Regions from separate parts of the Homo sapiens genome. Here all the other regions are linked to region 1. Evidence: fine-mapped expression QTL. A gene starts in region 1. Each other region holds a variant in brackets. All regions are shown on one strand. Distances are from middle to middle.

Region 1 (6,405 bases):
CTGGCCAACATGGTGAAACCCCGTCTCTACTAAAAATACAAAAATTAGCTGGGCAAGGTGGCACATGCTTGTAGTCCCAACTAGTAGGGAGGCTGAGGCAGGAGGATGGTTTGAACCTGGGAGGTGGATGTTGCAGTGGGCCAAGATCGTGCTGCTGCACTCCAGTCTGGGCGACACGGTGAGACTCCCTCTAAAATAATTAATAATAATAATAATAATAATTAATAAATCTAAAAGAAGTAGTAGAGGAGAAATTAAGAATTTAGAAACTTGTTGCTTGAGGTGGCTTTGGATTCTTTTTCTCCACCCTTTAATGTTTTTAAAATGTTACTCTCACTTCACATTGATTTCTAGTTGGCAGGGGCTTCTGTACATAACTTCCAAAGTGATATTTAAGAGGAATAAATGCAAAGATCTGCACAGTTTCCAAAAACAAATTGCAAAATACAGGTTGGAGAAGATATGGTTTTATAGCTGTATATATGTTAAAGACTTAAAAAAGATTTGGGGGTAATTTTTGCTTGTTTTTAGTTGGCAATAACATGATATTTATGAACGGTATGGGGTGGTAGAAAAATAATGTGATATCAAACTGAATTTTGAAATATCTTCATTAGGATGCAGAAAATTGTACTCCTCTACTCCTTCCTTTATACTTGGAATATTGTATTCAGTTCTAGGTGCCACATTTTAAGAGACACTGGAGAATGTTTAGATAAATGCGTATGGAGACGAATGAGATGTGAATAAAAAGTGGGTGGAGAAGGCACACATTGTGACTGCTGACTTCAAATGTTTACAAGGCTGCATATGGGGGGGAACCATGCTGTTCTGTATTAAACAATGTTAGTACTAGGTTCAGACTCACTGGACACATTCATACGCATTGCATTCATATTTACAATAATGATTTAAGGTGCTATTATTATCATTTTCTCCTTTTAGAATGGAGCAAACTCATACTTGGAGCAGTTTTGTGCTTTTCTAAGGTCACACAATTAGGAAGTTATAAGCCCAGGATTTGACCAACTTCTTTGGAGTCTAAGTCCAGTGGTGTTTCTACCAATACTGTAGCTACTTACCAAATGTATACAGAGACAGATTTTAGTTGAACATAGAAACTAGCAGGACTGTTTAAAAATGAAAACTGTTGTGAGGTCATGAATGGTTTCCTATCACTTGGAGTTCAAACATATGCTGGATAGCTACATTGCAAGGATCTAGCATATATATATTTACTTTTATAATAAAATATTAAAAACAAATGCTAATCATAGAGCCAAAGAAACTCCAGAAGTAAAGCCTCATGACTATAAGTGATTGAGCTAAGTTCATTCAGTAGTTATTGGAAAACGTAGCATCCAAATTTCATTCTCTGAATTTATAGTTTAATGTTTTTTCCATTATAGCAGTTACCTCTTATCTAACACCTAGGTAATACAATGTGGAACCAGAAGTATGTAAAGAGGAAGGGCAGGGATATTTTGTGAATTATTATAATGGATTGCTTGGCATGCTCTTGTTTTACTAGGATAAGCAAAGAATGTGAATGGTAGTTGGAGAGAGTTTAAAATGATAAGCAGAGAATGCCACATAGTAGAGAAGGGAAAAACAGAATACCACGGAAGGCTAAAAAAGGCTGGGACTGTGGACTTCCCTGTATTTTCTTTTCGTTGAGTAGATGCTCAACATCTATTTGTTGGGATGGAAAATTATTTCAACGCTTCAGCAAACAGTTAAAGAGAACCTTTTTTGTGCTGAGCACTGTGCTATGTTCTGGGGAGCAAAAAAAATGAACTAGACAAAATCCCTGTCCTTTTAAGGAACACACAGTCTAGGAAGAAAAGGCCACCAAGCAAAGCAACAGGAAAAAAGCAAGTATTAAAGATTATCATAGGGAATACTGTAGATAGACGATTTTATGAAAGCAGAGAGAAAAAGAGTATTTAATTCATTGTAAATGTGTGGGGTAAGGATACAGATGTGGTGAAAGGAGATGATGTCAGGGAAGATTCCAAGGAGGAAGGGATGCATTATCTTCATTATCTTGAAGGACAATAGGAGTTCAACTGGTTAAATGAGGGATGGATTTCAGGTGGGGGAAAACTACAAGGGCACAAAGACAAAGTCTGTTGAATTTGTGTGATACGTAGATATATTAGGAGTTGAAGCTGGAGCCAAGGAGGTCAATAGATCAGATTTTAAATGGCTTTGTAAACCATGGTAATGAGTTTGAACCTGATTCAACCAGGTGGAGAGACTTTGAATGATTTTAAAGAGGGACGTTTCATGCTTAGCTCTGTCTTTTTGGAGCATTCTCTCTGGCAGTTATATGGAACTGAAGCAGCAGTGAAGTTAAAGGCTTGACCTAGAGTGGCAAAGAGGTGGAAGTCATGGAGACAGACTGATATTCACAGAATTAAGAGGAAGAATTAATCCACGGGATTTTAAGTCAGAAAACTTTAGTGGAGAGAAATTTGGTTGCTTAGTTGTTGGAATAGGAAGATTTTATCAACGGAATTAGGTGATACTGAAGTGAGTGGCTGAGTGAATAATATGGAAGTCTTGAAATTGGGACCACACAGCTGCTCTGATCTGGTGTGAATTTGCTGATGACTCTTTTGAACTGAATTCAGGAAATGACATACAAATGATTTGCGCAATAAAATGAAAACAAGGACTCTTAAGTCAGTATACTTGGAGAAAAATAACTAGGTTGGTAAAAATGGGGAAGTAGCCATTATCAGGGAGCCCCATTGTGGATTAATTTTGGACTGTCCAGTGGAAAGATCCTCAAAGCAAAACAAATGCCCTGAATCCAGCCCTTCCTCACCGCAACCCTTTCCCTTTCATCTGCCTTCATCCTTCAGCCACACCACCGCTTGGCAGTGAGTACTTGGGAGCAGCTCTTGGAGACTTTGTACTCGAACCTTCGAACTCCAGCATGAGGCCAGAGGAAATAAATGACCTGCCAGGGTGTCAAGTAACGGACCCTCTCTTAAGCCCAGACTTCTGACTCCAGATCTAGGTACCCTTCCACTCTCCAAGACTGCCTCCCGCCTGGGGAGCCTGGGCCTCGGCTAGGGGTGGGGACGGCAGGGTCCGTCCGGAGCGCCAGAGTCCCACTCGCGCCCAGCCCTCAGCCCCAGGCCCGGTTGGACGCCCCGCCCCGCCCCGCCTCCTTCCTCCTTCCCGCGCCGGGCGGGTTGCTGTACCGCCGTCACCCGGGCGCGCGCGGGGTCGCGCGGACGCGGCTCGGGCCGCGGGTGCCGAGAGGTCGCCGGGCCACCCGCACCCCCGCTCCCCGCCTGACGCACGGAGGGGCCGGGACGCGATTTGCCGCGAGTGACTGGAGCCGCAGCCGTCGCCGCTGCTGCCGCCGCCGCCCGGGCCCGCTCCGCCCCCAGCCCGCCTTCCTCCCGCCGCGCCCTCCGCCTCCGCCCGCACCTCGCTAGCGTTCCCCTGTCTTCCCCAACGCCCCGGAGCCGCCGGCCGCTAGCGTCAGCGCCAGCCAGGTGAGTGTGGCCGCCGCTCGGCCCGGGCGGGAGAAGCGCGCAGGCCCCGCGGCCGGGTGGCCGGCTTGGGCCGGTGCAGTCGGCGGCGGCGGCGGTAGCGGGCCCGGCTTTCTTCCCCTGCGCGGGCCGCGGGGCGGAGGGGCTACGCAGTGAAGGAGGGGCGCCCCCGCCCCGCCACCGCCTCTGCTCCCAACGCCCCGACCGCCCCCACCGCCTTGCCGCCACAGACAAAGCGCCGGAGGTGGGAGCCCTGCGGGCCGCCTTTGCCTCCGCGCCGTCTGCCGGGTGCGGCCGCGGCCCGCAGAGACCGGGCCGCGCGCTTTTCCGTTCCTGAGCGCCCTTGTTCATTTCTGGGTGAAAGGGACCCGAATTGTGCAACAGGTTTGGGCGTTAGTCCTTATTTTCCAGCGGGTCTCTTTTGCCAGCGTGCAGGAACCAGATGTGGCTCCCTGCTCTCGGGCGAGTCCCGCGTCCAGCGCCCGCGACTGGCTCCTTTGTGTGACCGGTGACCGGCCCTGTCGGGTGGGTGGAGGACACGGGCTCGAGGCCCCAGGGCTGCGCCGAGGCTCCTGGACGCCTCCTCAGGTCGCGGGGCTTGGCTTCCACGGGCCTGCCAGAGGTTAACATCCCTCCAGCGTTTGGGAGAGTCACAAAGGGGAGGAGAGAGAGGGTTGGCCAGGGTCTGTGGTTGTGTTTATTTTTCTATTTTAGGTAGACTCATATTAGAAAAGAGCCGCAGTCTGACCAGCTCTTGAGGGTACGGGTGGGATTTCACCCTGGGATGCACGGTTTGGACTTGGCTGTTGCTCTGACAGCCCCCGTGGTTTTCTTGGTGCTTTGACATCTTTCTCTTACACACAGACATCGCGGGAGAAGTTGGGAGTGCTGCCGAGGGAGTAACTAGATAGCAGCTGTTTGACAGGTCGTCTCTTACTTCACGTTTTGCTTGTGTCAAGCATGCCCACTATGTATCCCAGCATAGCTTGGCAAACCGTCAAATTTAAATTGCCACTCAAAATCCTAATCCTTATACATACCTACATACACAGACACACATATATCTATATACTTTTTCTGTTTTGGCTGGCTAAATCTTATTAATGTGAGAATTTTTCCTCCCAAGGAAGAATGCATAATAAGGTACAATTTATCTTTGGTTACATACCTTGGTTAAGTTATGCCAATACCTAGCTGGTTTCATTGGTATGCTATTTTAGTTTAACAATACTAATTCCTTTAGCTTTGAGCAGTAAAATACGTCTTTGTTCTAGGACCAGGAAGCTTTTATACGTAATACTTTGCCCCATGACTAAATACGTGAAAAAATTCCCCAAGGACCTAGAAAGCATTTCACAACTCTATAGGCTGTTTTTATGTTCCAAATTCCAGGAAATCGTTTTGTTGAATATTTATTCAAACATTCTGGACTAAATTTAACCTTAAAAATTGGGCCCACTCTAGTTTTTCCCCAGCATTAGAAAAATGAATTGATTGCATTTACCAAACATTTTAGCCCCTGTGAATAAGAATTGAATGGAATAATTGATGTAAGAGATTAGGAGCTAGTGATGGACTAGGAATCTGACAACAGAATGCAGAATGTAGAAAGTTGTAAGTAGAGGTCACAAAGTTGCATCTACTTGGGTTTTAATTCATTGCTAGGCATTTAATGACATTTTAAACAGGTAATCTACTAATGATATATCTGAAAATGAAATGTCCAATAATTAAGAAAACAAAGTATTGCATTTTGACCTTTTTAAAAAATGTATTTTTATAAGGACTTGTTGAAGCTTTTCCACTCTCTAAAAATGAACTTGGTATTAATGACATTTCTTTTGAAAAAATGAAATTGTACCAAACTAATCCGATTTTTAGAAAGTTTCTCTGTTATAGTAGTTTTACTTTACTAAAAATACCATTCATCTGTATAGTAGCTAACTTCAAAGATCTTTTAAAGCTGTTACAAGCAACATGAGCAACCTCTTGAGGAAAGTAGAATATTTACTAATAAAAAGTAGCAAGCAGAGAAGTGAGCCATGATTGGACCACTGCATTCCATCCTGGGTGACAGCCAGACTTTGTCTCAAAAGAAAAAAAAGCAGAGACTTAAATTTTTATAATAGTTTTCTTTGAGATATAATTCATATGCCATAGAATTCACTTTTTTAAAGTATGCAATTCAGTAGTTTTAATATATTCACAAAATTATGCAAATGTCGGCACTAATCCAAGAACGTTATTACCCTAAAAAGAACCTTGTACCTGGTAGCTTTTGTTACTATTCCCCCTTCCCCATATTTGACAACCACTAATTTACTTTATGTCTCTATGGATTTGCCTATTTTGGACATTGCATGTGAATAGAATCATAATATGTGGCCTTTAGTGTCTTTCACTTAACATAATGCTTTCAGGGTTTATTCATATTATACCATGTATCAATATTTCATTCCTTTTATGGCAGAATATTATTTTGTTATATGGCTATGCCACATTTTGTTTATCCAATCTTCAACTGATGGGCATTTGGGTTGTTTCTACTTTTTGGCCATAATAAATAATGTTGTGGATACTCATTTACAAGTTTTTGTATGGTATATATGCTTTCAATTTTCTTGGATGTATACCTAGATGTGTAATTGCTGGGTTATATGGTAATTCTGTTTACTTTCTGAGGAACTGCTTGACTGTTTTCCATAGCTGCTGCACTGTTTTACATTCCTTCTAGCAATGTAGGGTTCCATTTTCTAGGGTAACCCTTCTACATTGCTAGAAGGGTTACATTCCTTCTAGCAATGTAGGGTTATAGCAATGTAGCAATGAGGGTTCCATTTTCTCCACATCCTTGCCAACACTTGTTAATGTTTGTCTTTTTGATGATAGCCAT
Region 2 (6,405 bases), 86 kb before region 1:
TAATAAGAGTTATAGAGAGAAGGATTAGATTTAATATATGTTTAAAGGTGATACCAAGCCACAATAAATAAAATGGCATGTTCTCAGCTCAGTAAAAGAGATGTATTCCAATGGAACAGCAAAAAACAAACAGTAATATATAGTATCTTGTTTCATTTTATTTATTTTTAGAGAAAGGGTCTCACTGTGTTGCCTAGGCTGGAGTACAGTGGTGCTATCATAGCTCACTGTAACCTTGAACTTCTGGGCTTAAGCAGTCCTCCTGCTTCAGCCTCCTGAGTAGCTAGAACTATAGGCACACACCATCATACCTAGCTAACTTTTTATTTTTTGTACAGACCGGGTCTCATTATGTTGACCAGGCTAGTCTTGAACACCTGGCCTCAAACTATCCTTCCCCCTCGACTTCCCAAAGTGCTGGGATTACAAGTGTGAGCCACTGTTCCCAGCCCTATCCTACAGATATCTGTACCTTTATGTAAAGCATTTCTGTAGGATAGGGCCATTTATATATGGCTATTTATATATATATAAGCTATTTATATATATAAAATACAGATATATAAATATATATAATACAGATACATATAAATAAATAAAAAAATATATATGGCTTTTATTTTATTAAAAATGACTCAAATGCTACTATGGGTAACAATGTAGCAGTTCCTTAAAAAATTAAACAGAATCACCATATGATCCAATAATTTCACTTCTGAATATAAACCCCAAAAACTTGAAAGCATGAATTGAAACAGATATTTGTATACCTACATTCATAGCAGCATCATTCACAATAGTCAAAAGCAACCCAAGTTCCATCAACCAATAAATAAACAAAATGTGGTATATACATATAGTGAAATATTATCAGCCTTAAAAAGGAAGGAAATGATGATACATGCTTACAACATCAGTGGACCTTGAAGAAATCATATGCTAAGTGAAATAAGGCAGTCACAAAAGGAAAAACACTGTATTATTCCACTTATATGAGGTACCTAGAGGAGTAGAGTTCTTTGAGACAGAAAATAGAAGAGTGGTTGCAAGGGGCTGCAATGAAGTGGGAATGCAGAGTTAGTCTTTAAGGGTACAAAGTTTCAGCTGGGGAAGATGAAAAAGTCCTGAAGATGAATGGTAGTGATTGTTGCACACAATGTGAATGTACGTAATACCTCAAAACTCTATACTTTAAAATTGTTAAAATCATAAATTTTATGTTATATATATATTTAACCACAACTTAAAAAGTGTTGTATGGTAAATGTTGGGATACTTACTAGATTTACATCATCTATTAAAGTATTTTGAAATAAATACTTGTGGCAGTATTTGTTTAAACAACCAAAATGTTCATCAACAAACTATAGTATAACCATGCAACTATGGAACAGCATGCAGCTATTAAAAAGCATAAAGTTGACATATATGGAATGATATACAAAATGTATTGTCAAGTGAAAGAGGAAATGGAAAATTGTATTCGACCTACTTTACATATTTCTTTTGTAAAAACAATATTACATCAAGTTGCCCAAGGGTAAGGCCGTCTAACCCACATGATAGAAAAAGCATCATCTTTGTTATTTTCTTCTTGGGATCACAGAGCCAGTCTCACTCTTTTATATAGTAGTTGGGTTTCCCTATAACAGATAGAAGTTCTCCACTGTCCATTATACTAGGAAGATATTCATCCTGGGACAAAAAATGAGGACTTAGTGAGTAGGAATTAGTCTGAGGTGAGGAGAAATTTTTTCTTTTTTCTCTGGGTTTGAGACTCGGTGACTGTGAGGAGCCAGGTGTCCTGACCTGGGCCTGACAACACAGAGAAAAGCTGATGACAAGTCAGGAAGGTGGCTAGGCCCATAGGTGACCTACAGCAAAATGGACTTGAACTGCAGAAGCAATGTATCTTCCGTGTTGGACTCTCCTTCCATTAGTCTTTGTTCTTCTGTAAGGGGAAATTATGGTAGAGCCCACATCCATATTTGTGGGCAGCGGTCACTGCCAGATAGCAGCCATGTCCTCCAGAGTAGAGATGGTGAGAGTCATCACTGGAACAAGAGGGATACTAACATGAAGTCAGGACCAGAAGAGAGGAATGCCAGGGATGTGTTCCCTAGCACACATTAGGTACCAAAATCCATTAGAGATATCTGAGACACATTCTTTAGAGCAGATTGCATCTTAATCAATAAGACTGGGGGAGCAGTCTCACCATCATGGTTTGGATTAGCGTAATTATAAACAAGATATCTTCTAGGGTCTTTCTGACTCTTAAAGGTAGAAGTGGTTCAACACTGCCAATTCCAGGTCCTGTAGAGTCTAAAACGTTTCCAAGTGTTCTGTGAATTTAGGGGGAATCATGCAGCAAAGAAGTAAGGGGCTGTGTCTCCTGGCCACCTCTGTCTCTCAGCCCATGGGTGCCTGCTTCCACACATATGGGCTTTTTTTCCACACCGCTTCAATATGGTCTTGACACTCACCCCTGTTCCCACAGGAAAAGCTCACTCACACCAACTATTCTGTAGATATAAAAGTCTTTACTAAGCCATTAGGGGAAACATGGCACTGCCTGCTGCACTGCTAATGCCATGATGCCCCTATAAGAAATTGCTGGTCTCCAAATGTTTCCTGGGCACCCCGGCAACATGAATTCTTCTCTTTACTCCTCCTCCATACAGTTCCTAGTCTCACAGCCTCCTCTGGCTCCCCTTCCCTCCCTCTCATTTACTTCTCCCTGGATTATTTGTTCTCTACTCTTCTCTCTGCCCTTTTTTGGAAGGAAAAAAAAAAAAAAAGAACTCCTCTCCTTTTCTCATGCAGAGCAATTCTACCCTGTTCTCTGAAGTTTGTGCATCAACCAATATCTTTTCAACATCTTTAAGGTTTTTCTTTTAACTCAATCATGTATTGGCTTTCCAAACAAAAACTGGCCTCAATCTATAATAAATTTTCAGACCAGTGGTTGAGATAACAAAAAATATTTCCACCTTGATATCTAATATAGATGGATAAATGATAGAAAGAGATTAACCCCCAAAAGTAATTTGGTTTAGTAAATCAAATGCTGATTTACCAAAGAGCCAACAATAAATTATCTATAAGGGAGTGGACTGAATTCTTTTCATTTTCTTTATTGAGTATTTTCAATGATTTTTGAATTTTGATAATAAGCATATATCATTTTCCACTGGAACATCAAAGGTGAGACAGACGAAGCCCCTGCCCTCGGAGCACTCCTAGTCCAGTACACGCAGCCCAGGCATCATGCCTGGTATGCTATGGTTGGTCAGTATGGCTAGTCCCTGGCCATCC[G/A]AAGAACTGAAACATCTAATTGCATTATCATTGTCTGTACTTTGTGGAACTCATTTTATATTGTTTTAAAACATTTTCTAAGTGGCAATAGACCCACTTTCTGTCTCCCAGAACCATAAGGTCCCATCAGTTCCTGGTTTTAATGTGTTTCCCTAATGAGTTCCTTCTAATAAAATCAGCATTTGATTTTTCCTGTCATTCACACAGCAATTTATCTTTTGTCAGGTTTTAATTGAAAACATCCAAATAATTCCTCTGGACCTCCAATGCCAAGGAGCCAGATTAGGCATACTTTTCTGCTCGTCCTGATAAGAAAGCCAGAGAATTCTAATTCTACCAGTTTTTTTTTCTAGGCTTAGAATTTAAATTATTTCAATATATTTATGAAATGAGACAAGTTTCCAGCAAAAGCAGTACTCAGTAATTGGAAAGTCAGTTACCTTTTATCTCTTGGTTAAAAAGAGGAAGTAGGTCAGTTCCTTGTTAATATTATTAGCAAATACTATTTATAGCATGATATAAATTACTGAGAAAAGACATCCTAATTTTTACTTTTAAGCAGAAGGCAATAGTTAACTCATTCTTATTCTTAAACATATTAAGGATACAGTGGACTAATTTTTCAGGAAGAGAGAGTGTGTCCTTGCCACCTTACAAACAACAACTAACTCACTAAGACAATTTTCACTACTCATATCATGTATCTGCTGGAAAGATTTGTCACTCATGCACATCTCAGCCACATATCACAGGTCTATGTGATGGAAAGAAAAATATGAACTTGAGAATAAAATATTTATGATATGGAGTTACTCATGCCCCTGTATTTATAGACTTTTCTGTGTGTATTTATATCTCAACTATAAAACTAAAATTCTGGTAGATATCTTTGCATTTGAATCTTCTGGTGAGGAGATTTAAATTGCCCAACCACTAAATTGGGTGCGTCTGAAATAAATCATGAAGTATTTATAAATACCATCATTTCAAAGGCAAGAAAAGGATATTTATGCATTTGGCTTATTCCTAAACTGAGAATAAGGTTGTCTTGGAGGCAACAAGATTATCAAACAGCCTCTGTGTTTGCACACACCAGAATAAATGGCAATCTGGACATAGAATACAAAAGCAAATATTTCTCAGGAAGAACCATGATTTGCTGCTTTTCATCAAAGTCTGGGTGAAATCATTACCAAATATCTACTTTATTGCCTTGTTCCTAAATGACTTGGAAGGATGGTGACATCATCCTTTGATGCTTAGAAAAGAAGGAAACCATATTTCAGCTAGAAAGGATAGGAATATTAAAACTCTTCAGACTGGAAATTTTTGCATCTGACAACACACCAAAAGCCATTGGGATAAATGTGCTCTCAAGGGCTGTCCTACTTTCAGTTTCCTCTCCTTTCTAAAGATTCTTCAGTTCTCAGCTCTGCTTCTGGAGGGATGCTGGCCAGAGTTCCAGCATAAACGATTCCCTGAGAAATGTTTCATGTTGAAGTCATGCACAAGGCCAGGGAGCTGTGATGAATGGCAGCTCCAAGGGAAGTCGGAAATCTAATCACAGGAGGAGCCTTTGGATCTTTCATACTCATTGACTTCACAGGATTAGTTTTGAGCCTGTAGACTGCGGATTAAAGCAGGAAGACTATAGCTTGTGTCCCTGCCTGGTATCACTTGCAAAATTTAGAACACTCTTCAAAGATGCCAAGAACTGAGATCTGAATTATAATTCTGTCAATTGTTCTTTGCTTGCCGCTTTCGCATTTAGTGCCTCTTCAAATTCTGCAAAACCCTGGATCATTTTGGTGACATGAATCATGATTCTCTACTTGGTATTTGGGAAGAATGACCCATCCACCTCCCAAGGGTTTTTGCTCTTAGTTATTGCTGATCAGTTGGGTTTCCATTGCCTTGAAACCCCAGTCTTATATATTCCTGAGGTATTTGAGTTATTTGTATGATCTATTTCTAGAACACTTATTTTCTTCAGCCAATTAAGTCTACAGGTACACATTGGTTTATTATTTTAGTTTTGAAGAGTAGAAAAGAAAGCATTTTCTTCATGATTTCCCCTTCTCCTATCTGATGAAGCCATTTTGCGGTCACATTAGAAGTTCAATTTTGTTCTCTGATTTTTATCAAGGCAGTGAGGTCCCTTCAGATTTACCCTCTGAGATGCTACCATGCATGTCTTTTAAAATGTTCATGTAGTGCTCAAGAATATAATGAACACCTCACTCATGAAAGAATTGCTTGAGGCTGGGCATGGTGGCTCATGCCTATAATCCGGGCAATTTGGGAGGCCGAGGAGGCCAGATCACTTGAGGTCAGGAGTTCGAGGCTAGCCTGGCCAACATGATGGAACCCCATCTCTACCAAAAATACAAAAATTAGCCAGGCGCAGTGGCGGGCACTTGTAATCCCAGCTATTCAGGGGGCTGAGGCAGGAGAATCACTTGAACCCAGGAGGCAGAGGTTGCAGTGAGCCGAGATCGCACCACTGCACTCCAGCCTGGGCGACAGATTAAGACTCTGTCTCAAAAAAAGAACTGCTTGATAAAGAGACAGACCATTTGAATGGGAGAATTTGAGAGAGAGGCCCTGAAGTCTTCTTTATTATCTAATTTAAGATTTTTTCCCCACATCTACCTCCTTCACCAGCTACTATGGCTGTCATAGAGAGCTTATATTGGGCACACATCGTTTTGATGCTATCGTGGGCTATAAAAAAGTTAGAACTAGTATGAATCTTGTCTTTCTTGGTAAAGTGATTTTTCTCCAAAGCATAAAATAAACTAAAACTCACTTTGGATTACATTATGAGTTGAAGTGTATCGTCCCCACTGCCCCCAAATTCATTAATATATCAAAGTCCTATGAGTGTGACCTCAGTAGGAGATAGAGTCTTTACAGAGATAATCAAGTTAAAATGAAGTCATTAGGGGAAGACCTTCATCTACCACAAATGGTGTCCTTATAAAAAGGGAAATTTGGACACAGACACACATAGCAGGATGATGATGTAAAGAGACAAAGGGAGAAGGTAGCCATCTACAACCAAAGAGAGAGGCCTGGCACAGATCC
Region 3 (6,405 bases), 20 kb before region 1:
TCATTTTACTTTGTAGGTCAATTCGTATTTTCAAACTTGACAATTTAACACATTTTAAACTTAAGAGCTTTTGAAAGAAGGGATTGACTAAATACCTTAAAATTTTTTTTTTTTTTTTTTCTGAGACAAGAGTCTCTCTCTGTTATCCAGGCTGGAGTTCAGTGGTGCGATCTTGGCTCACTGCAACCCCCGCCTCCCAGGTTCAAGTGATCCTCCTGCCTCAGCTTCCTGAGTAGTTGGGATTACAGGCTTGCACAACCTTACCTGGCTAATTTTTATATTTTTAGTAGAGACAGAGTTTCATCATGTTGGCCAGAATGGTCTCGAACTCCTGACCTCAAATGATTCACCTGCCTCAGCTTCCCGAAGGGCTGGGATTACAGGCATGAGCCACTGCACCCGGCCAATATCAGTATTTTCATTTAAGTTAAAGATTAACAAGGTAACAATAAACGTTTTCCATTTTTGTTGGTAGATTTCAATGTAGCTCAGAATTTGTATTGTAAAAATTTATTTTTTTAAGTTCAGGGGTTCATGCTCAGGTTTGTTATATAGGTAAACTTTTGTCATGGGGGTTTCTTGTACAGATTATTTCATCACCAAGGTATTAAGTCTAATAGCAATTAGTTATTTATCCTGATTATCCTGATCCTCTCCTTACTCCCACCCTCCACCCTCCACTAGGCCCCAGTGTCTGTTGTTCCCCTGTATGTGCCCATGTGTTCTCATCATTTAGCTCCCACTTCTAAGTGAAAACATGTGGTATTTGGTTTTCTGTCCCTGCATTAGTTTGCTAAGGATAAAGGGCTCCAGCTTCATCCATGTTCCTGCAAAGGAGAGGATCTTGTTCTTTTTTATGGCTACATAGTATTCCACGGTGTGTATGTATTATATTTTCTTTATCCAGTCTACCATTGCTGGGCATTTAGGTTGATTCCATGTCTTTGCTATTGTGAATAGTTGTAAATGCATAACTTATTCTTAGATGGTTCCACAAAAGATTATTTCTAATAGTGGTGGTTAGCTCCTAGGAGAGAAACTGGATGGCCCAGGGTCAGGGAGAAAAAAGAGACTTATTTTTCACTGTATATTATTTTGTGGTTTTGAATTTAATATTATGTACATATAGTACTCAAAAAATTAGATTAAGAGACTCAGTATTTAAAAACACTGAGGCATTGAGATAGATTAGGTCTCTGAGTATAAGGATATTGGCAGAAAAGGACCAAGGACTGACAAATGTCTCTATGTGAAGAAGGAAAAAATGTCAGCTAGACACCATTAACAGGGAAATAGACTGAGAAGTGAAAAACAGGATAAAACAGTGTCATGGACATTGAAAGAGAAGAGTTTTGAGAAGAAAATCAAGGGTTCCAAAAGAAAAGATAAATACCATTATCTGTAAAATAATTATAAAACTTTGTATATCAATATCTGCAAAAAAGTATGGCAGAATTTTAAAAAAGTCAATATACTTAGTATAAAAACAACTAATATAAATCAAGGGAAAAAACCCAACATTCTAATAGAAAAATTATCTATGAATAATGAAGGGACAATTCACGAAGAAAATACAATTGCCAATAAACATATTATTTTATCATTCAGGAAATGCAAATTTAAAAAGAAGAAATCTTTGCTTATATATTTAGTAAAAAAAAATTGTAATGAAGTTCTCAATGCCAATGGGAACATGAATTGGGACATATATTTGGAAATTAGTTTGTTAGCATGTATCAAGAGACCTTATAATTGTTCTTTCTTAAACTTTTTTTTTTTTTTGAGACAGAGTCTCACTCTGTCACCCAGGCTTAAGTGCAGTGGTGCCATCTTGGCTCACTGCAACCATTGCTGGCTGGGTTCAAGCAATTCTCGTGCCTCAGACTTCGCAGTAGCTGAGATTACAGGTGTGTGCCACCACGCCTAGCTAATTTTTGTATTTTTAGTAGAGATGGGGTTTTATTTACTGTGTTGACCAGGCTGGTCTCGAACTCCTGGCCTTAAGTGATCCACCCGTCTCAGCCTCCCAAAGTGCTGGGATCACAGGTGTGAGCCACCGTGCCTGGCATGTTTTTTCTTAAATTTGACACTGTATTTTTTATTTCCAGGAATTTGTACCGAGGAAATAATCAAAATTGTCTAATATTATATGCAAAATGTTCATTATAGCATTATATCTGAGAGCAAAACATAAGTCAATTGCAATGTTAATCAATAGGTTAAAAAAAGGTGGTTCATTCATAGGATAAAACACTATATAGTCATTAAAATGATATATCCAAAGATTATCTTATTATGCAGAACGGTGCTCATGGTGCAGATTAAATGTTAAAAGCAGGCTATAACATTCTACATAGGGTAAGAAACAATTTTCTAAAAATGTACATATGTGCATAGTGCACACCTTTTTTTGGTTTTTGTTTTTATAGTCAGAGTCTTGCTCTTTGTCCCAGGTTGAAGTGCAGTGGTGTGATCTTTTCAAATATTCCAAAATGTCTGTATTATGAGATCACTGGTGGTTTTTCTTTTCCTTATGCTTTTCAGAATGGCTGAAATCATCTGCAATGAAAGGTATGTATTTTATAATGAAGAAAGTGATAAATATTATAGCAACAAAAGGGCAGAAAGAAATACATGGTCACCAATTGGATTAGTCCCCTTTTGGGATGCCCAGTTAGCCCACACTCCTCATCCCTGAGAACATCCTCCCAAACCCTGCTCCTTTGCCTTGTATACCCTCTCTCCCAATGGGACTGTCATTCACTCAGTCCACCACCTCTCACATCTGTCTGCCTCCTTCTTAGTTCAGATGCTTATCCTTTCTCACTCAGAAGTTCAAGTTTCCCACATGGTCTTCTACCTTCAGTCTTATAGCCTTCCAATCCAGCTTCCATCTACTTGCAAGTAAGTGTGTTATTTGCAAAATACTAGTGTA[T/C]TAAGAAGGGCAAAAAGGAGAAGGAGAACTTTGTTAGCACCTTGTGTAGTGCCTATAGGTTTAAGTCCAAATTCCTTTGATAAGTTCAAAGTCTTCTGTTATTTTGCATTGCCTTTCATTCTAGCTGTGAAGCCCAGCTTGGTTCCCATGTTCTAGACATACTGAGCTATTTGCAGTGCCCTCAGCAGACCTGGATGCTTTATGTCTCTGCACCTTTGGTCATGTACTTCCTCTGCCACTAATGATGCCATAGCCTGTTTCCATCCACCTGGTCAACACACACTGTCTTTCTAGAAGACTCAAGTGTAAAGCCATTCATGACTTCCCTGGGTAGAGGCAATTTCTCCCTCATTTGTGGTTCTACTTTTTGCCTTTACTGCTTTATATCACATAGTTTGTGCACATCTTCTTTGATAAATAGACTGAACAACATTTGACATCAGAGAATGTCCTTTTCATCCCCAGATCCTAGTTTAGAGACTGGTGAAAACCTAATAACTATTTGTTGATTAAAAGAAAAAGGGAATGAGTGGTTAACAGTATCAAGTACTATAAAGAGGGAAGAGAGGGAAAAAATCACTGAATATGATAATTAAGTAGTCATTGTTAACTTTGAAAGAACTATGTCAGTTGATTTAGTGGGGAGGCTGCAAGTAGTGAATGAATGGTGAACAAGTAATCATTTCAATTCTGGATATTTTTCACGCACAAGGAAGTTGTCACTGAATGGAAGGAAAAAGAAGATAATGGCTTGAAAGAATATTTGAATTTTGGTTTTTATAAATAACAGAAACATAAATATTTTGTAGCTACAGAAAAAGAAATTACTCACAGGAGAATTCTGATGTCACATGGCAAGATTAATTTTACAGGAAGATCTTAAAGCATGCACATTGCAAGTGCTTCCACAATTTATGCATTTCATTTATTATTAATAACTAGGATGAGAAACTCCTGCTGGCTCTGCATTTTCCCACCCCCTCCTCCACAGCCCGCAAAGGAAAAAATATTAGTCGGATCAACCTCAGATTTTCTGGTTCAGTATTAGTGTGCATGAGCCTATGGATTTTATCTTCTGCCCACCTGCTTGGTGAGCTGCTAGGCCTTTGAAGCAAATGGGCTTTCTCTTTCTCTCTTCCTATTAATTTGATAAGACTGTTTGCATATTTCTTAACATTTCATATATTTTATCTGCTTGTGTTCTGGGCTGCACTTTGTATCATTTCTTCAGATGGGTCCTCGAATTTGCCAATATTTTGATTTAGCTCTGCCTAATGTGTGCTTTAACCAATCAATTGAAACTTTTTACCTCAGCAATTCTATTTTTTTAACTTCTAAGAGCTTTATTTGGTTTGTCTTCAAATTTGCCTGGTCTTATAGAAGAGCCTCTTATTGCTTGCTTAATTTTTGTGTTTCTATCTTTTAAAACATTAAACATTTCATATAATTTGTTTCATATTCTTTGTCTGATCATTCCAGTATGTGAAACTCCGATTGAACTAAATGTGATGTTGGTTATTTCTGATACTTTCATGAATTTGCTTGTTTATATTTTTTATAACCGTTGATTATGAACTCCCATTTAATTGATTTTAATCTGTGGGAATCCTGGAGTCCTAATCTGAAGATGTGTTTCTCCAAAACTCATCTTCTGTGTGGAGCCACATGCCCCACTAGTAATCTGGAACCACCGTAACTCCTCTCCAGGTTTCTGGCTTTGTGAGAGCTGCTCTTCATCAGTTCTCCAACTTGCCCCAGGACACTTTCTCTGGGTCAGTCTGACCTGGTGACTTATAGCCCACTGCTTTGCTTTCATTCCCCCAAATCGTGTAAGCCTAGAAGTGCATGGCATTATCGTTTTGTAGCAAAATAAGACCTTTCTCCCATTTTCTTGTGAACCCCTTTCAATCAAACTTCCTCTCCCATCATTCCATCAAAACTGCTTTTCCTAAGGTCACCAATAATCTCCAAGTGCAAGGGTCACTTTTGCACCTCATCTTACTCCTTGTCTCAGTCTGTTTGTTCTGCCATAATAGAATACCTGACATGGAGTAATTTATAAGTAACAGAAATTTATTTCTCATGGTCCTGGAGACTGGGAAGTCCGAGATCAAGGCACTGACGGGTTCAGTGCCTGATGAAGGCTTATTTCTCATAGGTGACACCAACTATGCCCTTATGCCCTCACAAGGTCAAAGTATGGAAGCACAAAACAGACCAAATTCCCTCCCTTGAGCCCTTTTATAAGGACACTAATCCATTCATGAAGGCAGAGCCCTCATGGGCTGATCGCTTCCTAAAAGTCCCTCCTCTTAATAATGTTGCATAGGAGATTCACTTTCAACATGAGTTTTGGGAGGAACACAAATATTCAAACCATATAGTCCTTGCTGTGATGATATTTTTAATTTTTTTATTTTTAATTTTTGTGGGTACATATAGGTGTATATATTTATGGGGTTCATGAGATGTTTTGATCAAGCATGCAATGCATAATAATCACATAATGAAAAATGGTGTATCTATCCCCTCAAGTATTTATTCTTTGTGTTATAAACCATGCAATTATGCTCTGCTAGTTATTTTAAAATGTAAAACTATTATTGACTGTGCTCACCCTGTTGTGTTATCAAATACTAGGTCTTATTTATTCATTCTATTTTTTTGTATCCATTAACAATCCCCACCTCCCCCCAACCACCCCACTACCCTTCCCAAACTCTCGTAACCATCCTTCTACTCTCTATCTCTATGGATTCAACTATTTTGATTTTTGGATCCCACAAATAAATGAGGACATGCAATGTCTGTCTTTCTGTACTTGGCTTATTTCACTTAACATAATGACCTCCAGTTCCATCCATGTTGCTGCAAATGACTGAATCTCATTCTTTATATGGCTGAATAGTACTCCATTGTGTATAAATACTACATTTTCTTTATCTATTCATCTGTTGATGGGACACTTCGGTTGCTTCCAAATCTTGGCTATTGTGGACAGTGCCTCAACAAACATGGGAGTGCAGATATCTCTTCAATATACTGAGTCCTTTTCTTATGGGTATATATAGCAGTGGGATTGCTAGATAGTATGGTAGCTCTATTTTTAGTTTTTTGAGGAATCTCCAAACTGTTTTCCATAGTGGTTGTACGAATTTACATTCCCACCAACAGTATACGAGGGTTTCCTTTTCTCCACATCCTCACCAGCATTTGTTATTGCCTATCTTTGGATATAAGCCATTTTAACTGGGACGGGATAACATCTCATTATAGTTTTGATTTGCATTTCTCTGATGATTAATGATGTTGAGCATCTTTTCATATGTCTGTTTGCCATTTGCATGTCTTCTGTTTTACTTAGCTAATCTGGCTAAGGGTTTATCAATTTTGTTTAACTTTTCAAGAAACCAACTTTTTGTTTCATTAATTTTTTGTGTTGTTTTCTGCATTTTAATTTCATTTATTCT
Region 4 (6,405 bases), 170 kb after region 1:
AGGAGAGAGTGGCATGACATATATAAAGTGCTGAAGGAAAATATTTTTAAACTTAGAATAGTACATCAGGTGAAATTATCTTTCAAACATGAAGGAGAAATAAAGACTTTCCCAGACCAAAAAAAAAAAAGGAGAGAGATTTTTATTAACACTAGAGCTGTCCTACAAGAAATGCTAAAGGGAGTTTTATAGTCAGAAAGAAAAGGACAATAAGGAGCAAGAAGAAATAATCTGAAGGTATAAAACTCAGTGGTAATAGGAAGTACAAAGAAAAGCAAAGAATATTATAACATGATAACTATGGTGTGTAAACTGTTATTAAGTAGAAAGACTAAATAATGAACCAATGAAAAATAGTAACAACAACAAATTTTTATGATGTAGACAGTACAGTAAGACATAAAGAGTAACAACAAAAAATTAAAAAGCAAGGGGAATATTAAGGTATACAATATTAGTTTACTTTTTGATTGCTTGCATGTTTGTTTATGCAAACAGTGTTTTTATCAGCTAATCTCAAACCAAAAATCATACAACGTATACAGAAAAAATAAGAAGCAAGAAACTAAATCATATGACCAGAGAAAATTACCTTCACTAAAAGGAAGACAGGAAGGAAAGAAGGAAAACAAGACCACAAAGCAAACAGAAAACAAAACAGTAGAATTATATCATTATTTATCAACAATAACATTGAATGTAAATGTACTAAACTCTCCAATAAAAGACAGAGTTTTGGATACAAAGAAACACAAAACATGACCTATTGATCTGTTTTCTACAAGAAACACATTTCAACTATAAAGACATACATAAACTGCAGATAAAGGGATAGAAAAAGATATTCCATGCCAATGGAAACCAAAAAAGAACAGGAGTAGCTATCATTATATCAGACAAAATAGATTTCAAAACAAAAACTATAAGAAAAGACAAGGTCACCATATAATGATAAAGGGGTCAGTTCAGCAAGAGGATATAACAATTTAAAATATACATGGACCCAACCCTGGAACACTCAGATATATAATGCAAATATTGTTAGAGCTAAAGAAAGAGACTCCAATACAATAATAGCTGGAGACTTCAACACCCCACTTTCAGCATTGGACAGATATTCCAAATAGAAAATCAACAAAGAAACATCAGACTTAAAATGCACTATAGACCAAATGGATCTAATAGATATTAATAGAACATTTCATCTAATGACTATAGAGTGCATATCCTTTTCCACAGCATATGGATCATTCTCAAACATAGACCATATATTAGGTCACTTAAAAAGCCTTAAAATATCCCCTCAAAATTAAAATAATATCAAGCATCTTCTCTGACCACAATGGAATAAAACTATAAAACAATCACAAGAGGGATTTTGGAAACTATACAAATACATGCAGATTAAACAATATGCTCCTGAATGACCATTGGGTCAAAGAAGAAATTAAGAAAGAAATTGGGGGGGAGGAGCCAAGATGGCCAAATATGAACAGCTCCAGTCTACAGCTCCCAGCGAGAGTGATGCAGAAGACGGGTGATTTCTGCATTTCCAACTGCGGTACCAGGTTCATCTCACTGGGGAGTGCCAGACAGTAGGTGCAGGACAGTGGGTGCAGCGCACCATGTGCGAGCCAAAGCAGGGCGAGGCATCACCTCACCCAGGAAGTGCAAGGGGTCAGGGAATTCCCTTTCCTAGTCAAAGAAATTGGTGACAGATGGCACCTGGAAAATCGGCTCACTCCCACCCTAATACTGCATTTATCCAACTGGCTTAAAAAATGGCACACCAGGATATTATATCCCGCACATGGCTCAGAGGGTCCTACACCCATGGAGTCTCACTCATCGCTAACACAGCAGTCCCAGATCAAACTGCCAGGTGGCAGCGAGGCTGGGGGAGGGGTGCCCACCATTTCTGAGTTAGCTGTTTGATTAGGTAAACAAAGCAGCTAGGGAAACTCCAACTGGGTGGAGCCCACCACAGCTCAAGGAGGCATGCCTGCCTCTGTAGGCTCCACCTCTGGGGGCAGGGCACAGACAAACAAAAGCAGCAGTAACCTCTACAGACTTAAATATCCCTCTCTGACAGCTTTGAAGAGAGTAGTGGTTCTCCCAGCACGCAGCTGGAGATCTGAGAATGGGCAGACTGTCTCCTCAAGTGGGTCCCTGACCCCCAAGTAGCCTGACTGGGAGGCATCCCCCAGTAGGGGGGCAGACTGACACCTCACCCGGCCGGGTAATCCTCTGAGACAAAACTTCCAGAGGAACGGTCAGGCAGCAGCATCTGCGGTTCATCAATATCCACTGTTCTGCAGACACTGCTGCTGATATTCCAGGCAAACAGGGTCTGGAGTGGACCTCTAGCAAACTCCAACAGACCTGCAGCTGAGGGTCCTCTCTTTTAGAAGGAAAACTAACAAGCAGAAAGGACATCCACACCCAAAACCCATCTGTACATCACCATCATCAAAGACCAAAGGTAGATAAAACCACAAAGATGGGGAAAAAAAAGAGCAGAAAAACTGGAAACTCTAAAAATCAGAGTGCCTCTCCTCCTCCAAAGGAACGCAGCTCCTCACCAGCAATGGAACAAAGCTGCATGGAGAATGACTTTGACGAGTTGAGAGAAGAAGGCTTCAGACGATCAAACTACTCCGAGCTACAGGAGGAAATTCGAACCAATGGCAAAGAAGTTAAAAGCTTTGAAAAAAAATTAGACGAATGGATAACTAGAATAATTAATGCAGAGAAGTCCTTAAAAGACCTGATGGAGCTGAAAACCAAGGCACAAAAGCTATGTGATGAATGCAGAAGCCTCAGTAGCCAATGCGATCTACTGGAAGAAAGGGTATCAGTGAGGGAAGATGAAATGAATGAAATGAAGCGAGAAGGGAAGTTTAGAGAAAAAAGAATAAAAAGAAACGAACAAAGCCTCCAAGAAATATGGGACTATGTGAAAAGACCAAATCTACGTCTGATTGGTGTACCTGAAAGTGATGGGGAGAATGGAACCAAGTTGGAAAACACTCTGCAGGATATTATCCAGGAGAACTTCCCCAATCTAGCAAGGCAGGCCAAGATTCACATTCAGGAAATACAGAGAACGTCACAAAGATACTCCTCAAGAAGAGCAACTCCAAGACATATAATTGTCAGATTCACCAAAGTTGAAATGAAGGAAAAAATGTTAAGGGCAGCCAGAGAGAAAGGCCGGGTTACCCACAAAGGGAAGCCCATCCAGACTAACAGCTGATCTCTCTGCAGAAACTCTACCAGCCAGAAGAGAGTGGGGACAAATATTCAACATTCTTAAAGAAAAGAATTTTCAACCCAGAATTTCATGTCAAGCCAAACTAAGCTTCCTAAGTGAAGGAGAAATAATATACTTTACAGACAAGCAAATGCTGAGAGATTTTGTCACCACCAGGCCTGCCCTAAAAGAGCTCCTGAAGGAAGCACTAAACATGGAAAGGAACAAC[C/T]AGTACCAGCCACTGCAAAAACATGCCAAATTGTAAAGACCATCAAGGCTAGGAAGAAACTGCATCAACTATCAAGCAAAATAACCAGCTAACATCATAATGACAGGATCAAATTCACACATAACAATATTAACTTTAAATGTAAATGGGCTAAATGCTCCAATTAAAAGACACAGACTGGCAAATTGGATAGAGTCAAGACCCATCAGTGTGCTGTATTCAGGAACCCCATCTCACATGCAGAGACACACATAAGCTCAAAATGAAGGGATGGAGGAAGATCTACCAAGCAAATGGAAAACAAAAAAAGGCAGGGGTTGCAATCCTAGTCTCTGATAAAACAGACTTTAAACCAACAAAGATCAAAAGAGACAAAGAAGGCCATTACATAATGGTAAAGGGATCAATTCCACAAGAAGAACTAACTATCCTAAATATATATGCACCCAATACAGGAGCACCCAGATTCATAAAGCAAGTCCTGAGTGGCCTACAAAGAGACTTAGACTCCCACACAATAATAATGGGAGACTTTAACACCCCACTGTCAACATTAGACAGATCAACAAGACAGAAAGTTAACAAGGATACCCAGGAATTGAACTCAGCTCTGCACCAAGCAGACCTAATAGACATCTACAGAACTCTCCACCCCAAATCAACAGAATATACATTCTTTTCAGCACCACACCACACCTACTCCAAAATTGACCACATAGTTGGAAGTAAAGCACTCCTCAGAAAATGTAAAAGAACAGAAATTATAACAAACTGTCTCTCAGACCACAGTGCAATCAAACTAGAACTCAGGATTAAGAAACTCACTCAAAACCACTCAACTACATGGAAACTGAACAACCTGCTCCTGAGTGACTACTGGGTAAACAAGGAAATGAAGGTAGAAATAAAGATGTTCTTTGAAACCAATGAGAACAAAGACACAACATACCAGAATCTCCGGGACACATTCAAAGCAGTGTGTAGAGGGAAATTTATAGCACTAAATGCCCACAAAAGAAAGCAGGAAAGATCTAAAATTGACACCCTAACATCAAATTAAAAGAGCTAGAAAAGCAAGAGCAAACACATTCAAAAGCTAGGCGAAGGCAAGAAATAACTAAGATCAGACCAGAACTGAAGGAAATAGAAACACAAAAAACCCTTCAAAAGATTAATGAATCTAGTTTTTTAGATTCCAGGAGCTAGTTTTTTGAAAAGATCAACAAAATTGATAGACTGCTAGCAAGACTAATAAAGAAAAAAAGAGAGAAGAATCAAATAGACACAATAAGAAACGATAAAGAGGATATCACCACCAATCCCACAGAAATACAAACTACCATCAGAGAATACTATAAACACCTCTACGCAAATAAACTAGAAAGTCTAGAAGAAATGGATAAATTCCTCGACACATACATCCTCCCAAGACTAAACCAGGAAGAAGTTGGATCTCTGAATAGGCCAATAACAGGCTCTGAAATTGAGGCAATGATCAATAGCTTACCAACCAAAAAAAGTCCAGGACCAGATGGATTCACAGCCAAATTCTACCAGAGGTACAAAGAGGAGCTGGTACCATTCCTTCTGAAACTATTCCGATCAATAGAAAAAGAGGGAATCCTCCTTAACTCATTTTATGAGGCCAGCATCATCCTGATACCAAAGGCTGGCAGAGACACAACCAAAAAAGAGAATTTTAGACCAATATCCTTGATGAACATTGATGCAAAAATCCTCAATAAAATACTGACAAACCGAATCCAGCAGCACATCAACAAGCTTATCCCCCATGATCAAGTGGGCTTCATCCCTGGGATTCAAGGCTGGTTCAACATTCGCAAATCAATAAACGTAATCCAGCATATAAACAGAACCAAAAACAAAAACCACATGATTATCTCAATAGATGTAGAAAAGGCCTTTGACAAAATTCAACAACTCTTCATGCTAAAAACTCTCAATAAATTAGGTATTGATGGAACGTATCTCAAAATAATAAGAGCTATCTATGACAAACCCACAGCCAATATCATACTGAATGGGCAAAAACTGGAAGCATTCCCTTTGAAAACTGGCACAAGACAGGGATGCCCTCACTCACCACTCCTATTCAACATAGTGTTGGAAGTTCTGGCCAGGGCAATCAGGCAGGAGAAGGAAATAAAGGGTATTCAATTAGGAAAAGAGGAAGTCAAATTGTCCCTGTTTGCAGATGACATGATTGTATATCTAGAAAACCCCATTGTCTTAGCCCAAAATCTGCTTAAGTTGATAAGCAACTTCAGCAAAGTCTCAGGATACAAAATCAATGTACAAAAATCACGAGCATTCTTATACACCAATAACAGAGAAACAGAGAACCAAATCATGAGTGAATTACCATTCACAATTGCTTCAAAGAGAATAAAATACCTAGGAATCCAACTTACAAAGGATGCGAAGGACCTCTTCAAGAAGAACTACAAACCACTGCTCAATGAAATAAAAGAGGATACAAACAAATGGTAGAATATTCCATGCTCATGGGTAGGGCGAATCAATATCGTGAAAATGGCCATACTGCCCAAGGTAATTTATAGATTCAATGCCATCCCCATTAAGCTACCAATGACTTTCTTCACAGAATTGGAAAAAACTACTTTAAAGTTCATATGGAACCAAAAAAGAGCCCGCATCACCAAGTCAATCCTAAGCCAAAAGAACAAAGCTGGAGGCATCACGCTACCTGACTTCAAACTATACTACAAGGCTACAGTAACCAAAACAGCATGGTACTGGTACCAAAACAGAGATATAGATCAATGGAACAGAACAGAGCCCTCAGAAATAACGCCGCATATCTACAACTATCTGATCTTTGACAAACATGACAAAAACAAGCAATGGGGAAAGGATTCACTATTTAATAAATGGTGCTGGG
Region 5 (6,405 bases), 940 kb before region 1:
GACTAGAATGAGATGTCCCCAAACCAGTGCCAGAGAAGGCCAAGTATAGAGTTGAGACTTTCATTTCCATCAGCTGGCAATGAAGTAATCTCCCAAAAGTATAGGTGGGGACCATATAGGGAGACAGAATTTCTACCATCACCCAGAAATAATGAGGTATCCCTCCATATCCCTACTGGGGTGGTATCAGTGAAGGCCTAGTAGACAGTTAAGATGTTCATCATTGCCCAGTGATTTTGAGGCCACCTTCACTATAGTACCAATGGATGCCACATGGGGAACCAGAAATTTCACTCCCACCCAGCAGTAACAAGGAACCCTCACATTGGGTGTCAACAGTGATCAAATAGGGAAACTAGACATCTTCCTCCACTTGGCCCTAACAAAGCCCGTGTCTTCTCCTCTCTTTCCAGGCCAGAGCAGTGTCAGAGAAAGACAGCTAAAACAGATTTAAATAATATCCAGAGTCTCAAAACATAATATGAAAATATTCAAGCCTCCAGCAAGAATAAATAGAGACAAGACACAAATTACTAATAATAGGAATGAAACAGGGATGTCACTACAGAACCTGCAAACATCAAAATGATAATAAGAGTTACAATGAACAATTCTATATATCCACAACTTAGATAAAATCGACCAATTTCTTGAAAAACACAAACTACTATGACTTACCTAGTATGAAATAGATAATTTAAATAGTCCTGTAATACTGAGAAAATTACATTTGTAATTTTAAAACTCCCAAAAAAGAAAATTTCAGACCCACATGGTTTCACAAATTTCTGCCAAATGTTTAAAGAAAAAATAACACCAATTCTACAAATCTCTTCCAGGAAATAGAAGGGAAGGAAACTTTCCAACTCACTTTATGAAGCTAGCATTACCCTGGTACCAAAGCCAGACAAACACAGTACAAACAAACAAACAAAAAATACAGACCAATGTGCCTCATAATTATAGACATAAAAATCCTTAACGTTTTAGCAAATAAAATTAAGCAATACATAGAAAGACCCCTATACTGTGACCACGTGTGGTTTGTTCTATGGTTGCCAGGGTGATTCAGTCTTCAAAAATTCAATGAATGTGGTCCATGTTAACAGGCTAAAGAAGAAAAATCACATGAGCATATCAAATGAGGCAGAAAAAGCATTTGATAAAATTCAACACTCATTCATGATAAAAACTCTTAGAAAAATAGGAATAAAGGAAACTTTCTCAACTTGACAAAGATCTACAAAAAACCTACAGCTAATATTCATCTTAATGTGAAAGACTGAATGCATTTTCCATGAGACTGAAAATAAGATAAGGAAGTCTGCTGTCACAATTTTTATTCAAAAGAGTGCTGGACAAACAAATGGAAAAACATTCCACGCTGAATGATAGGAAGAATCAATATCATTAGAGTGGCCATATTGCCCTAAGCAATTTACAGATTCAATGCTATTCCTGTCAAACTGCTAATGTCATTCTTTGCAAAACCAGAAAACACTATTTTAAAATACATATGGAATCAAAAAAGAGCCCAAATAACCACAACAATCCTAAGCAAAAAGAACAAAACGGGAGGCATCACATTATCTAATTTCAAACTACAGTACAGGGCTACACTAATCAAAACAGCATTGTACTGATACAGAAACCGCCACATAGACCAATGGAAATAATAGATCTTTAACAAAGTAGACAAAAACAAGCACTAGAGAAAGAACTCCCTATTTAATAAGTGATGCTGGGATAACTGGCTAGCCATATGCAAAAGATTGAAACTGGACCCTTTCCTTACACCATATACAAAAATCAACTCAAGATGGATTAAATACTTAAGTGTAAAACCTAAAACTATAAAAATCCTGGAAGACAACCTAGAGAATACCATTCCGGACATAGGAACAGGCAAAGATTTCATGACCAAGATGCCAAAAGCAATTGCAACGAAAACAACACTTGACAAGTGGGACCTAATTAAAATAAACAACTTCTGCACAGCAAAATAAACTATCAACAAAGTAAACACAACCTACAGAAAGGGAGAAAATATTTGCAAACTATGCATCTGGTATACGTATAATATCTGGATAGGCATAATATCCGGAATGTGTAAGGAACTTAAACAAGTTGAGAAGCAAAAATTCCATTAAAAAGTAGGCAAAGGAAATGAACAAACACTTTGTAAATGAAGAGCTTTTCAGTAGCATACTAAGACGTGTCCAACACTAGAATGGGTTGCCTAGACAAGTGAGTTTCCATGTAATGTGTTCAAGCAGGAAGAATGTTGCAAAAGGCACGACTGCATTTGGAGATTGGACCTCATCAGGAAATCATAAAGTCAAATGCCAACAGGAGGCTAGGTAAAAAATATGAACTATTAAAACATGCTGGGTGATTGTTGCCTTGTAAGAATGCTGAACTGGTGGAACTACCTCTTCTGATGTTTCAAGAGAAGCTGGAAATCTGGCTTTCTATATGACGTCTCCCAATAATTAAAATATCTTCACTAATTTGCCTCTTATGTCCAAATACTATGAGATCTAACACTGTGTAGTCCAAATAAAACATATCTATAACTTACATTGTTTTATTAATTCAAATGAATAAGAAATGGTTTCTATCATTGCATCCCTGCATTGTTAATTTCCAAAAACCTCTTATTGCTGATATTCCATCATAAATTGCTGTTTCCATGAAAACATCTTAAGAATAAATATCTCATTTTCTGCAATTTGTATTTAACAGTAAGGATGCAATTAAGGCAATGTCTTTGTGTTAAGCTCTGCACATGATGGCCCATTTTTTGGGAGGTTATTTATGAAAGCTCCAATTTTCTTGCAGAAAATTGTCTATCACATATTCAGTCAAATAATGACATATTATGTTTCATTGCTCAAATCTACTTCATGAGGGTTTGTCTTTTCTCCAAACGTGAATGGAACTTTCTTGAGGGAAAGTGTCAAGTCTTATAGTTCATTTTTCCATCTCAATTTGCTTACTAAAGTTTGGATCACACAACAAGTGCTCAAATATGGCTACGTCACAAGGATTTATTTACCACCAGACTTTGTGTCCAATAATATAATTGAAGCTATTCCTGGCCTAAAAGGGAAATGGTGGGACAAATGAGTGGGGAGATTGATTAGTCCTACCCTCTATAGACTCATACCATCAATGCTATCACACCCTCCCAGACCATCAGCAGGCCTTTTCCTCTTGACTTTTCAGCACCATTCGTGTCTCCTGCGGAGTTTTCAGGAGTTCCCCAATAGGCTATGATTGAGAGTATCCACTCACTGTTTTGAATTTCAAAAAAAAAAAAAAA[T/AT]GAAGAAAACAATCAGGCAAACTGTGTTTGATGCATTTTATATAACTGTGGCCTTAGAAGGAATTTGCCTTATAGGGCAACATGGGGTTTATCAACCAACAGTGGAGGTAAAATTCTCCTATTCATTACATTTCTATCTTCTAATTTCAAGTAGCTGTTATGGTATCGGTGTCTACAATGTCTACGGCAATTTGAGTGTCCTGTGGCAGATGCAGGGTTTCTAAAAATCAGGTGGAGTAATGGAAAACATTGCAGGTGGTATCTGACAGCAGATCAAAAGAACTCTAAGCTCACAGGGGATTTTTCTTCAAACTTTTCTACTTGCCTATCAGATACTGAGATTTTGACCTATGAAAACAATTTTGTGTTTAAAGAATATAAACTTACTAGAATTTAGATAATATTATCCTAAGGAGGAAAACACACACACACACACACACACACACACACACACACACACACACACACAGTATTCAATTGCCCACTTAAAAAAATGAAACATTTTAAGGGGCTATTCACAAGGTCTTTGAAAATCAAATATGGTACTCTTTTAAGCAAGTGAGAAAAGGTAAAGTTTAGCAATGTTGGTATCTAGAGAAGCGTCATCAAAAACTACTTTTAAGAATGTTTAGTTCCACAGAAAGAAGGAATCTGAGAATCAAAACCTGGTTTCAGAATATCCACCTACCAAGAGTGAAAAGATGTTAAGCTGTTGGGCTTTGGGCAGTGTGCCCTGGGCAGGGCTTCTGACTTTTCAAGACAGAGCAGTGTTCATGTCATTGATTCCTGATCTGACTGAGTTGTGTTCTGCCTTCCCTCCCAGGAGGCTCCATTTCCTTTAACTTTTTCTTTGTTTCTGTCAAACTTACCCACACTTAGCACATTCTTTCACCCAACCGTTGTTCTAAACATGACACGTCCCTTTCTTTCTTCTCTACTGATGTGGTAACTGTTCTTTGGCCTTCTTGAATGTGTTGTTTTATAGAAAGAAAAAAAAGACAAAAAGAGGCCTGTGTCCTACTGAGTATTTCAGCTTCAAAAATTATTTCTGAGGACAAAAGCTGCACTGGGAAGAGTTGGACAGAATTCCGGGCGTAATGGTATGTAAACCTCAATACTAGAATAGTCTTCTCAGATCCTGAAATGCCGCAGAGCAGCACAAAGGAGAGAGACATGCTCTCTGGTATTTCATGTCACCTTTTAGTCCTGAAAGAATAAAGGTTACCAAATGATAGACAATTTCTCTCAATGTGCAGTTCCTTTGCTGACATTGAGTGTTAGATCTAAGTCCAGTGAGAGCAATAGCAACAGTGTTAACATGGGCTTTTTATTTTTATTTTTTCAATTGACAGCAGAAATGAAGGCAATTTCTTGTTTAGCTGGATTACTGAACCAGGCTCTTAACTGGTCATGTCCTTCTGCCTTGTTTCCCCTACCCTCTGTTTTATTTTTCAAGAGTAGCCAGGATAGCAAGCACATCAGATGATGAACTTCTGCAAAAAGCTGCAATAGAGCTGGGGTTAAAACTCGGAGTTGAAGCCTAAGTTTTAAACCATCTCCTCACCCATTCACCCCTTACTGTATTGATATTTATCATTCCCACACCCCCTCACAGTGCTCCAACCGCAAGAGTCTCCACTGTCCCTTGCATACACTGTGCATGCTGTAGTGTTAGGGAATTTTCACTAGCAGAGCCCTCTGCCAGGACTATTTGCTCATCAACACTACTGCCTTCAAGACTTTGCACAAATATCAACATCTGAAATGTCAACATCTCAAAGAGACTCACTTTGAGCATCCTATAAAAACAGAAATTTTTCCCCTGCATTTACTATGCTTCCAACTCTTAATCCTGACGTACTTTTTGTTTGTCCATATTATTACTTACTTACTATTACGTATTATTTATTTTGTTTACTGTGTGCTTACTGTTGAGGTTAACAAAGACAGGAATCTTTGTTTTATTCACCGATTTAACTCAACTCCCTAGAACAGTGCCTAGCATATGTGTAGGAGACACTTAAATTTGTTGAATACATTAGTTAATGGTAAATTGGTTTATGTATTATTTCTTTGAAGATAACAAAGATAGTATTCTGGAAAGAAGAAAAACCACATTGTTAACAAAGTGATTGTGATTCACAGTCACTGGAGAATCAAAAACTGCATATTTTCTGAATTCAAATTCATAGAATTTTGTTTTTCCCCCAGAGATTCATGGAAGATCCTCTGTATCTCTGGAATGAAGGTAAGCTGTAAAGTTCCAAGCAAATTTGAGTTAGCAAGCAAATTGGAAATTTGGAGAGCATATTTTAATTGCCCTTCATCTAGGAAATCATAGCCGCCTTCCCTCTCAAACCAGTTGCCCACCATTAGCTGCAAAAACATGGAAACTAGAATTTTGGTGTGATATCAAAATTCTCTCCCTGCACTTTGGCTCAGTATCCAATTTTTTCCTGTTTCTTGGTGCTCATGTCAGTTAGTCAGACTCCTTCCTTGCTCTGGACATGATCTGCTCTGGGGCCTGGGCCTGTGTCCCTGACTCATGCTTTCTGGTCTCTTAAGCAATGCCTTGTAGCCCTTGTTTTCTAATCTCCTGGCTCTCTGGGTGGGTGGCTTGACTATGCAGACTCATGCCTCTAGCTTGTTTCTTGAGCCCTGGCTTATTTTCCAAATCCATGTAGTAGATCCAGAGATGTATTACTCAGATCTCTCTTCTTGGAAGTACTTGTTGATCGAGTGTGGCGAGTGCTATCAACAGACCACCCCCAACTGTCAGCCTCATCAGGGACTGCCTCAGCTGCAAAGCACTGTCTGCCCACGGTCACAATCTTCCATAGGACAACATGCTTCCCAGGATGGCCCAGTGATAAGTCCTCTAAGGAAGAGTACTTGCTCCAGAGCTCCTAGCCAGTTTGCTGAGACACAGCCAGCCAGGTATCACAAAACAACTTCTCCCTCTCCCAATCCCACTTCCACTCCTTTCCTTCACAGATACTGGCTCCTAATAAACATCTTGTTTCTCCAAATGCCGTCTCACTCTCTGCTTCTAGAGAACCCAACTGGCAACAACCTCCAAC

Evidence for each region. PIP is the estimated chance that this variant, and not a neighbour inherited with it, causes the effect.
Region 2: its variant is the best candidate, but not a certain one, in a credible set for the expression of SESTD1 in whole blood (INTERVAL, PIP 0.71).
Region 3: its variant is the best candidate, but not a certain one, in a credible set for the expression of SESTD1 in nasal epithelium (TOPMed, PIP 0.59).
Region 4: its variant is the best candidate, but not a certain one, in a credible set for the expression of SESTD1 in whole blood (INTERVAL, PIP 0.74).
Region 5: its variant is the best candidate, but not a certain one, in a credible set for the expression of SESTD1 in regulatory T cells (Bossini-Castillo 2019, PIP 0.68).

Annotation. Positions count from the first base shown.
Region 1 is chr2:179,261,609-179,268,013 of GRCh38, reverse strand. It overlaps SESTD1 (SEC14 and spectrin domain containing 1), which reads left to right and starts at 3,182. Exons shown (of 18, transcript NM_178123.5): 1 at 3,182-3,515. RefSeq lists silencers at 3,081-3,700, 3,711-3,780, 3,889-4,052 and an enhancer at 4,381-4,450.
Region 2 is chr2:179,347,497-179,353,901 of GRCh38, reverse strand. No RefSeq gene overlaps it. Among named protein-coding and RNA genes, the nearest start is that of SESTD1, 86 kb to the right of the region's middle. The variant G/A (reference allele first, on the strand shown) is at 3,319.
Region 3 is chr2:179,281,608-179,288,012 of GRCh38, reverse strand. No RefSeq gene overlaps it. Among named protein-coding and RNA genes, the nearest start is that of SESTD1, 20 kb to the right of the region's middle. The variant T/C (reference allele first, on the strand shown) is at 2,936.
Region 4 is chr2:179,088,619-179,095,023 of GRCh38, reverse strand. No RefSeq gene overlaps it. Among named protein-coding and RNA genes, the nearest start is that of CCDC141, 42 kb to the right of the region's middle. RefSeq lists an enhancer at 986-1,155. The variant C/T (reference allele first, on the strand shown) is at 3,483.
Region 5 is chr2:180,203,707-180,210,111 of GRCh38, reverse strand. No RefSeq gene overlaps it. Among named protein-coding and RNA genes, the nearest start is that of EPCART, 82 kb to the right of the region's middle. The variant T/AT (reference allele first, on the strand shown) is at 3,326.